3 linked regions of the Homo sapiens genome follow. The protein of the gene in region 1 interacts with the protein of each later gene in a pairwise test. Each region holds a gene or a part of one and is shown on either strand. Other genes may lie near its edges.

What was found.
Region 2: the proteins of NRIP3 (region 1) and EFHC1 interact in binary tests that used the Homo sapiens proteins (3 or more experiments, as listed by UniProt).
Region 3: the proteins of NRIP3 (region 1) and KASH5 interact in binary tests that used the Homo sapiens proteins (3 or more experiments, as listed by UniProt).

Annotation. Positions count from the first base shown.
Region 1 is NC_000011.10:8,983,455-8,987,071, reverse strand, and holds part of NRIP3 (nuclear receptor-interacting protein 3), read left to right. Parts: intron 1-1,221; coding exon 1,222-1,361; intron 1,362-2,947; coding exon 2,948-3,000; intron 3,001-3,102; coding exon 3,103-3,197; intron 3,198-3,511; coding exon 3,512-3,527; 3' UTR 3,528-3,617.
Region 2 is NC_000006.12:52,454,758-52,458,411, forward strand, and holds part of EFHC1 (EF-hand domain-containing protein 1), read left to right. Parts: intron 1-3,654. UniProt on the Homo sapiens protein: Microtubule inner protein (MIP) part of the dynein-decorated doublet microtubules (DMTs) in cilia axoneme, which is required for motile cilia beating.
Region 3 is NC_000019.10:49,415,276-49,418,550, forward strand, and holds the end of KASH5 (protein KASH5), read left to right. Parts: intron 1-398; exon of another isoform or gene 399-883; intron 884-1,739; coding exon 1,740-1,804; intron 1,805-1,880; coding exon of another isoform or gene 1,881-1,883; coding exon 1,884-1,991; intron 1,992-2,093; coding exon 2,094-2,235; coding exon of another isoform or gene 2,236-2,276; 3' UTR 2,277-2,715; downstream 2,716-3,275. UniProt on the Homo sapiens protein: As a component of the LINC (LInker of Nucleoskeleton and Cytoskeleton) complex, involved in the connection between the nuclear lamina and the cytoskeleton.

The sequences.
Region 1 (3,617 bases):
GGGCCTGGGCCATCATAAGGGTAATTAGCCAGTAGTTTCTTTTGTTTGTTTTGTGTGGCGGAGCCTCACTGTGTTGCCCAGGCTGGAGTGCAGTGGTGCAATCTCAGCTCACTGCAACCTCCGCCTCCTGGGCTCAAGTGATCCTCCTGCCTCAGCCTCCCGAGTAACTGGGACTACGTGTGCGCCACTATGCCTAGCTAATTTTTTGTATTTTTTGTAGAGAGGGGGTTTTGCCATGTTGCCCAGGATGGTTTTCAACTCCTGGGCTCAAGCAATCTGCCCGCTTCAGCCTCCCAAAGTGCTAGCATTACAGGCGTGAGCCACTGCACCCAGCCCTGAGCTTTTGTGTGGTAAAAATATGAAGTATAGTGCAACATGATGGTTCCAGAAAGACTAACAATGTCCTGGTGCATAATTAGGCAGCAGACTGCCATGATTCCAGAGGAATTAATAACCATCTGTAAAACTGCAATTATTTTTCTTTTGGATGGGCTATAACACCAAAAGAGAGGAAATAGAGGAAAGCAGAAGTATTGGCACAGAAAGTTCATAATTAAGTATTTATCCACCAACCCATAATAGCTCGGGTGCTAGCTATTCCAATCAGCTTATGTAACATGTGAAACCTTGGTACTGTTTCTTTCCTTCCTCCCCTGCACAGACAAGTTAAATTAACAAGGATTTTCTCCATGATATTCCTTGCTGATATGAATATCAGTGCACTTACCAAATAAGTACTTGCCTCCATTAACATTATAGTCTAAGACAGACTGATGAAGACAGAGTGAAATAGAAAGGACAATGAGAAAATTACACATTGAACAAAGCACCTTATAAAATTAGGATTAATCTGACTTCTCTAGTATCTGTTACTCACAGATGGGTAAAAGGATGTGTCAACTCAATTGCCTCACACAATAGTGGGGATAGTAGGATACAGAATAGGATTCTCTGAATATATCAGTTCTCCTCTCTTCACCAATACACATAAGTGATGTAAGGTTTTTGAGAACGGGAGATGAGTCTTTAGTGTTTTTATATCTCCCTGGCATGTTTAGGACAAAGTGCTGGAACAACATATGTAGGATGGCTAGCACTTTTCGGTAGATTAATCCCAGGAGATCCCTGGAGAATTCCAATTGTAGGTCAGAAGGTAGGCATTGCAGGATTCTACCAGGAATCTCTGTCAAGGGGATTTTGGTATCTTCCTCTTTGGTACAGACTCAAGGAGCATGTCAAATCCCACAAGCATGAAGGAGAAAAGCTTTCTCTACCCCGGCATCTCAAAGTAGTGGGCCAGATTGAGCACCTAGTGATCACACTGGGCTCCCTCCGCCTGGACTGCCCAGCAGCTGTGGTTGGTAAGCAGAATTGAGGGCTGGACCTATGGACCCTAACGGAAACCCTCTCCCTACCCCCAACAAAACCTCATGTCATCTCATGCCTGTAAATATTGACTTTTTCAAAATGGTTCCCATTTTTTTGTACTGTAGACCTTGTCCCAATTTTTGCTCTCCAAAGTAATAGATGGGCCCTGAGCTACATTCAAGACATGTTGAGAATCAATCAGTAAAACAAATGTGGTCAGATAAAAAAAAAATTCGGCCGGGTGCGGTGGGTCATGCCTGTAATCCCAGCACTTTGGGAGGCCGAGGCGGGCGGATCACAAGGTCAGGAGATCGAGACCATCCTAGCTAACACGGTGAAACCCCATCTCTACTAAAAATACAAAAAATTAGCCAGGCGTGGTGGTGGGCGCCTGTAGTCCCAGCTACTCGGGAGGCTAAGGCAGGAGAATGGCGTGAACCTGGGAGGCGGAGCTTGCAGTGAGCTGAGATCGTGCCACTGCACTCCAGCCTGGGCGACAGAACAAGACTCCGTCTCAAAAAAAAAAAAAAAAAAAAAAATTCAAGGAGCAAGAGGCCGGGCGCAGTGGCTCACGCCTGTAATCCCAGCACTTTGGGGGGCCAAGGCGGGCAGATCACCTGAGGTTGGGAGTTCGAGACCAGCCTGACCAACATGGAGAAACCCCGTCTGTACTAAAAATACAAAATTAGCCGGGACTGGTGGCGCATACCTTTAATCCCAGCTACTTGGGAGGCTGAGGTAGGAGAATCGCTTGGACCCGAGAGGCAGAGCTTGCAGTGAGCAGAGATCGCGCCATTGCACTCCAGCCTGGGCAACAAGAGCGAAACTCCGTCTCAAAAGAAAGAAAAAAAAAAGGAGCAAGAAAACACATTTTTATGTATAGGTGAAAATGTCCCTTGAGAGCTTTCCATGAACTAGTTAGAGACAGAGAGCAACTTACTTACTCCTTTGCCATAAATCCCTTGATAATTTCCCACCAGTTTCCACACTTCTCTACATTTTACTCTTGACTACTCCAAGTTCTTGGTTTTTGTGTAAAGGCCTTTGTCCTTTAGAGTAAAAAAGACCTGGGTTTGAATCTTGGCTCTATTGCCTTGTAAGTTTAATGATCTAGGAAAATTACTTAATATAACACATGCTCGGCCAGGCGCGGTGGCTCATGCCTGTAATCCCAACACTTTGGGAGGCTGAGGCGGGTGGATCTCCTGAGGTCAGGAGTTCGAGAGAAGCCTGGCCAACATGGCAAAACCCTGTCTCTACTAAAAATACACAAATTAGCCAAGCGTGGTGGTGGGTGCTGGTAATCCCAGCTACTCCAGAGGCTGAGGCAGGAGAATTGCTTGAACCTGAGAGGCAGAGGTTGCAGTGAGCCGAGATTGCGCCACTGCACTCCAGCCTGGGCAACAAGAGCGAAACTCCATCTCAAAAAATAAAAAAAAAATAAAAAAAAAATAACACATGCTCAATATATGTTTATTGGATGTTATTGGATGGATGGATGGAACCTAATAGTGATTAGGCCAACTTCTAAGCAAGCATGGAAATGGCTAAATCTTAATCATTTTTTTGTTTTTATTAGATGACAATGAGAAAAACTTGTCCCTTGGTCTACAGACTCTCCGATCTCTGAAGGTAAGATTGACTCCACTTACCCCTTGATACTTCCTCTCTGAGGCAGGTATCCTCTTACACAGGAACTCATAGTGGTATCACTGACAAGTTACCTGTTTTCAGTGCATCATAAACTTGGATAAGCACCGGCTGATCATGGGGAAGACAGACAAGGAAGAAATCCCTTTTGTGGAGACAGTCTCTTTGAATGAAGACAAGTGAGTGCCCAAATGGGTCAGATCAAGTCACATCCATTTGTCATCAGCTGCGAGCAGGGTGGTGGTGGTTCTCAGACAGGACATGGGGTTGTATCCTGTCTTTGGCTTTCAATTATACTACAAATCCACCCTTCCCCACACCCAGAGTTCATCACCCCACAAAACTCTGTAGTGCACACATCAGAATGAGCAATGGTGATGCCACACAGAGTGGTAGGGAAATGACTAGCTTTGAAAGCAAAATTTTACTTGCCTTCAGCTTAACTTTTTTTGAATTTGGCATTATTTCTCCTGATATTTATTTCTCATTTCAGCACTTCAGAAGCATAACTACAGCCTGCAGCATGTCTGCACGTGTGCATGCATACACACCGGGTTGACAGATAGAGAAAACTGGGTTTGAACCAAATGCCGTAGTGA
Region 2 (3,654 bases), on another chromosome or scaffold:
CCATTGTGTCAAACCCAGCTCATTCTTTACTGGTTTAAAATTACCTAGCATGGGCTGGGCATGATGGCTCACTCCTGTAATCCCAGCACTTTGGGAGACTGAGGCGGGTGGATTGCTTGAGCCCAAGAGTTTGAGACCAGCCTGGGCAACGTGATGAAACCTCCTCTCTACAAAAAATACAAAAATTAGCCATGCTTGGTGCCGCACACCTGTATTCCCAGCTACTTGGGAGGCTGAGGTGGGAGGATCATCTGAGCCTGGGAGGTCGAGGCTGCGGTGAGCTGTGATTGTGGTGCTGCACTCCAGCCTGGGCAACAGTGAGATCCTATCTCCAGAAAAAGAAAAAAAGTTACCTACCATATTTGAGAGTGGCAGTGCAACAAAATGGCAGCAAATACCTGCTGTTCACTGTTTCCTGGGATGAGTAGGCTTGCTTTAGTTATTGTCTTAGTAGTTTTTACATTTCTCTTAGAATAATGTCATCTTGGTCACATGTAATGACTGATAGCTCTTATGTTTGGGTGGCTGACAGGATTCTGTAAATGTGTTCACTGATTTTTTTTTCTTTTTACTATATTTTTTGGGAATTAGGATATAAGAAATTTCAGGTATTGGGGCTGGGCACGGTGGCTCACACCTGTAATCCCAGCACTTTGGGAGGCCAAGGCAGGTGGATCATGAAGTCAGGAGATCGAGACCATTCTAGCTAACATGGTGAAACCCCATCTCTACTAAAAATACAAAAAATTAGCTGGGCGTGGTGGCGTGCACCTGTAGTCCCAGCTACTCAGGAGGCTGAGGCAGGAGAATTGTTTGAACCCGGGAGGTGGAGGTTGTGGCGAGCCAAGATCGTGCCACTGCACTCCAGCCTGGGTGACAGAGTGAGACTCCATCTCAAAAAAAAAAAGAAAAAGAAATTTCAGGTATTGAGCAAGAAGTTTGTCTACATTAGAGGTTATAAATAAATGTGTAGTCTGAGGCTAAATTCAACGTGTCTGTACATATTGCTTCACTTGCACAGTGCTTTTTTATGAAAAATGCAGTATTATTTGTGGGCAAGGAGTTGGAGGTTTCCATCATTGAGAGAATGGATAAGCAAAAATGTAGTGAAGGTACATTTTGATTAATATACAGTAGTTAGAAGCAGTAAACAAGATGTACACAGAAAGCAAGTGGATGGATCTTAAAAACATAGTGCTGTGTAGGAAAAAATACATGAAATTAGATATATAATGCTATAACACATGCAAAACATAGTACACGTAGGACACATTCAGTCACATAGCTGCATTAGAATGATTGCATGTGAGGAGAGGAGAATGAGATTGGGGAAAAGGATAAAAGGGAGTGAAAATTGTCATCATTTTAGAATTAGGAAAGTTTATGTTATATATTTTTTTAAAAAAATGAAAATACTGCTAATTCAGCTTGTATTCTCAAATAGAAACAACTGGATCTGTGCCCTAGTTCAACATAGTTTGGCTTCTACCTACTATACATATTCTTATAATCAGTTCTCTACAGAACCGTCTTAGAGTTCAATGACAATGGGACTAATATAGTAATTTTGGCCTTTCAGAATGCTTAAACAAGCCTGAAATCCATGCAGTTCGGAGCTAACAAACATTAGATTTACAATAGATAAAGAAAATGGATAGGAATATATTCAGGGTGGCATGAAAAGTCTCACTGAAACTAAATCCCTTTAAATGACAGATTCCAGGTTTGTCTCTGCTTTATCAATGTGACCTATATTGAAAACTTAATATATAATTATCCTCTTCTATAATTTCCCAATTAAAAATTTTTTATCAAAGTTGCATGGAGAGGCAGCCTGGTGGCATATATAGGGTTCTTTTAAAAAGTAGGAAACAGGCTGGTCGCTGTGGCCGAAGCCTATAATCCCGTCACTTTGGGAGGCCAAGGTGGGAGGATCACCTGAAGTCAGGAGTTCGAGACCAGTCTGGCCAACATGGTGAAACCCCCTCTCTACTAAAAAATACAAAAATTACCTGGGCATGGTGGCAGGTGCCTGTAGTCCCAGCTACTTAGGAGGCTGAGGCAGGAGAATTGCTTGAAGCCAGGAGACAGAGGCTGCAGTGAGCGGAGATTGCGCCACTTCACTCCAGCCTGGGCAACAGAGCAAGACTCCATCTCAAAAAAAGAAAAAAGGTATCAGTCATGAGGTACAGAAAAGGCTATGTTCCCATCAGCTACATAATTCCTTTAACTAGAAGGGTAGTGTTAAAAGAATGATGTCTAATTGACTCTCAAAGGCATTTATCCAATGGGTGATTTTTATTAAATTCAATTAAACAAGAGGTAAATAATCTGCTATGGGAACCATTTCACATGCTAAATGCTATGGAGGACAAAATGTAACTCCCATTCCTAGAATCCTATCTTTCAGTCATTTCTAGTGTCATTAAGAAGACAAGGCATATAAAATACACAAAGCTGTTAAGTAATAACATGAGTATACCAGATTATCTGATTATGTAATTAGTTAAGTCATGCAGACCGAGGTCAGAAGGACAAAGGTGTGGGCCTGAAAAACTAAAGAAGTCTTTGTGGAAGAGCTGGGATTAGACTCAGATTTAGAATGGCAGAGAACAAAGAGCTCACTAGAAAGAAGAACAAGAGCAAAAGTTGGGAATTAGGAACAAGTATGGCATGTTTGGGGGCGCCCAAGAGATGGTGGCTAGGCAGAGAGTTTGTATTAGACAGTAATAGGAAATTATGGGAGTAACTTTCAGAAGTCCTCTCAACCAGGGCCTCCTTTTAAGTAGCTAAGATAAATCAAAATTATATATTTATAATGGATGGAGTTAAAATATCAGAAATTCAGAAAGTTATTTCTTCGTCAAGGGCAATTGCATATTACCAATAGGTGGCAGGTAATATCAAAACAGGACATCTTTTGACTTAACAAAAGCTTTCTACTCAGCTCTTGAACCCAAGGAACCAGGTTCTGAAAGTCTAAATATGTTAGTTATCCTTCAGACTGGCTTTCATAGTTTGATCTTGCCCTTGCCTGTTAGATGAATCTTGAACACCCCTTAGACCTTTAGTGTTCCAGAAAGTTGAATGTATTTCCTCACTTTCTGTGCATCTTTGTTGGCTCACTCAGTCATTCGAATAATATTAATCGAACATCCATATAGATGAAGGAAACACCATGCTAGGCAATGGAGATCTGAAACTACTATAAGCCCCATATCTCAAAGACTTTACAATCTGATGAGATCAACATACAGATCAATGAAATAGAACAAATTGTCCAGAAATAGATGCACACATATGAGGTCATTTGATTTTTGACAAAGGTAAAAAAGCAATTTGGTGGAGAAATGATTGTCTTTTTAACAAAAGGTGCTGGAACAATTCAATAGCCTATGCAAAAGTAAATAAATAAATAAACTTCAACCCTTACCTCACCATACATAAAAGTTAACCCCAAATGGATCATAGACCTGGGCGACAGAGTGAGACCCTGTCTCAGAGCAGGGGGAAAAAAAAAGCAAATGTAATGAAAACAAAAATTGACAATTGGGACCTAATTAAACTAAAGAGCTTGTGCATTGCAAAAGAAGCTATCAACAGAGGAAACAGCCTACAGAATGGGAGAAAATATTTGAAACAATGCATTTGACA
Region 3 (3,275 bases), on another chromosome or scaffold:
ACGTGGCTACACCCCCGGATTGCATAAATGCACACGCACATGCGCCCACACTCGGGAGAGGTTGGGCCGGCCCTCCCCAGCCAGCCTCAGAACTCCCTGGGGGCGTAGTGCCCGCAGCCCCCCTGCCTGCAGCCACACAGGCCAGTTCCTCTGCTCCTCAGAGCCCAGTGCCCGGTGGGGGTTAAGATTTCCATTCTCAGGCAAGGACGGGGAAAGAAACTTGGTAAGGAGAGGTGAGGAGCCCTCAGTTGTGAGCTGAGGAATGCAGGAGCTGGGCTGGAGTCTGCCTGTTGTGGGTCAGGCACTGTCAGGGCCCCTGGGGCTCTTCAGGGTCCAAACCGGCCAAGATGGCTGCCTCCAGGACACTCAGCTCCCAGCACCCTGGCCCCGAAGCCCACCTCCTTCAACATACTACACTCCCTTGCAGAGACTGGGGCTCCACCTCAGCTTCCTCACAGCTCACATGGGCATAATCTCTTCCTTGCTCCCAGGGTGGGGAGGAGGGTTAAGGACTATGTCATAAAGGGCCTGGGTCCCTGCCTGGCACAGCAGGTGGTAGAGGTGAAGATATTGATTGTGATTGGTGTTCTGTTTTTATTTACTGCCATTATCATTGTCATTCATCATCCTCATCTGTGTTAAAAAGGTATGGGGGTAGGAAAGCCAAAGACCCATAGAGGGGAGGCCCTTCCGGGGAGACATGGGGGATGAGGCGGTGCAGTGGGTGGGGCCTGGCCCTGGAGGAACAGCTGGGGCTTTGATCTTTGAATCCTCAGATGAAGTGTTGGAATTAATCAGTGAATTTAGTGTGGTTGCTGGGTGAAAGATCAAAATAAAAAATCATATTTCAGTATAGCAACCATGAGCAATTAGAAAAATAAATTTGTAATTATACCATTTATAATGGCATGGTGTTTTGTTTTTGGTTTTTGTTTTGAGATGGAGTCTTGCTCTGTCGCCAGGCTGGAGTGCAGTGGTGCGATCTCGGCTCACTGCAAGCTCCACCTCCCAGGTTCACACCATTCTCCTGCCTCAGCCTCCCAAGTAGCTGGGATTACAGGCACGTGCTACCATGCCCGGCTAATTTTTGTATTTTTAGTAGAGACGGAGTTTCGCCATGTTGGCCAGGTTGGTCTCCATGTCCTGACCTTGTGATCCGCCCGCTTCAGCCTCCCAAAGTGCCGGGATTACAGGCATGAGCCACTGCACCTGGCCTGTAATGGCATGTTTTTAATTAGTAAAGCGCCTGCCGATTCTGGCATAGGCAGGAAGACAGGATTCTTCATGAGGCCCAGCACAGGGGTGGGCACCTGTAGAAGATGTGGTCTCTGCCCTCAGAGAGCTTAGATACTTCCAGAATCCAATGGAAAACGGAGGTGATGATATTGAATAGCTCACACAGACATTGAGCACTCACTATGTACCAGGCGCTGTCCAAGCTATTGCCCCCGCCTTTTTTTTCCTACATTCACTCATTTAGTCTCCATGTTAACCCTATGAGGTGGGGACATCCCTGGCCAGCAGATGGGGAAAGAGCGGCACGGAGAGGTGTGGTGACATGCCAAGGACCCTCAGCCAGAAGCTGGCAGAAATGGGAACCCGACCTGGCAGCAGAAGTGCACTCACTTATCTCCTGAGCTCCACCACTTTCTATGTGGCCACTTGTGTCCAGTGGGCTGACCTGAGCACCTCTCAGTCCAGAACCCGGTGCCTCCAACGCATCTCTTCTGTCCTTGCAGGCTGATCTCCCTGTCCCTCTAGGAGCCCCTCGCCCTGGAGACATCCCAGAAAACCCTCCAGAGAGGTAATAGGACCCACAGGGTCCAGGAGGGACACTGGGGCAAGGAAAAACCCAGTGGTGATTCCCTCCTTCACCCCAGCAGACCTGCGCGGCGGGAACTCCAGCAAGCCCTGGTGCCTGTGATGAAAAAGCTGGTCCCAGTCAGGAGGAGGGCCTGGGGCCAGCTCTGCCTGCCCCCACAGCGGCTCAGGTGTGCCCCCAGGCGTCTCCAGAAGGAAGGAGGTGGTCTGACATTGGGAAGAGCAGGGGCTGCCCAGACCCTGCCCTAAATGCTCTCCCACCTCCCCACCAGAGTCACTCGACATCCACTGATCCCAGCTCCTGTCCTGGGCCTGCTGCTGCTGCTGCTGCTCTCTGTCCTGCTGCTTGGCCCGTCCCCACCTCCCACCTGGCCCCACCTCCAGCTCTGCTACCTCCAGCCCCCTCCAGTGTGAGAGGCTCTACTTGCCCCTCAGAGCAGTGTCTAGCTCAATAAATCCCCTGGCCCTCTCTCCACTGGGATCCCCATTGTTAGTCCACTGTTGCGCAGGCTTACCCTAGATAGAGTACAGGGGATCCACATCCCTGTATTTTTATGTGAAGTCTCCTAGTTTTTTAATGCTGACATTTCTTAACAATAGCAAAACTCCCCCAGTAATGGATTAAGCACTAAGGATTATTCCCTCACAAAACAAGCCTGGCGAGGGCAGCTGTGGGCACACAGCTAAGTCTCGGTTGCCTTGGGGTCAGGGCCTCAGTGATTCTCCTGTCCCCTCCCTCATGCTCAGGAGTTGGCAGTTGTAGCTTCCTACATCACATCTGCGGGAAACGGAAATTTCTTCCTTCCTTTTTATAAAGAGAGGCAGTAGCCTCAGTGTGCAGTGGGTAGATTCAAATCATATTCATAATAAAAGAGAAGCAGTTGCCTGCCCAGAGCCACCAGCAGACTTGTGTTTGTTTCACTAGCCAGACTGTTTGGTGTGACCACCCTTAACTGTAAGGGAGGCTGGGAGACCTGGGAGGTCAAGTACCTCTGCGGGGACTGGGTACCTTGAAAGTGCCTTGCCACACACCTCATTCACACTGAAAAACACTGCAGGCCATGGACCTAACAAACACTCTGGGAGTCACCTACACACCACCACCAGTGTGCAGCTGCTGAGTGGCCTTGGCATGCATGGCCAAGCTGCTTCGAAGGGCTCCAGGATACCTCTTCTCCTTGATTTCTTTCTCCTTCCTACCTTCTCTACAGCTCTGCCTTGCCCTCCCCCGATAGGATCCTGACTCTGTCCTGCCACCCCTCCACGGGTAGCAGCCTAGGTTGACCCAGTCCCAACTGCATCCTAAGTCAATAAAGAACAATCTTCTTGGGCCGGGCACAGAATCACTTGAACCCGGGAGGCGGAGGTTGCAGTGAGTGGAGATTGTGCCACTGCACTCCAGCCTGGGAGACAGAGTGAGACTGTGTCTTAAAAAAAAAAACAAAAAACAAAAA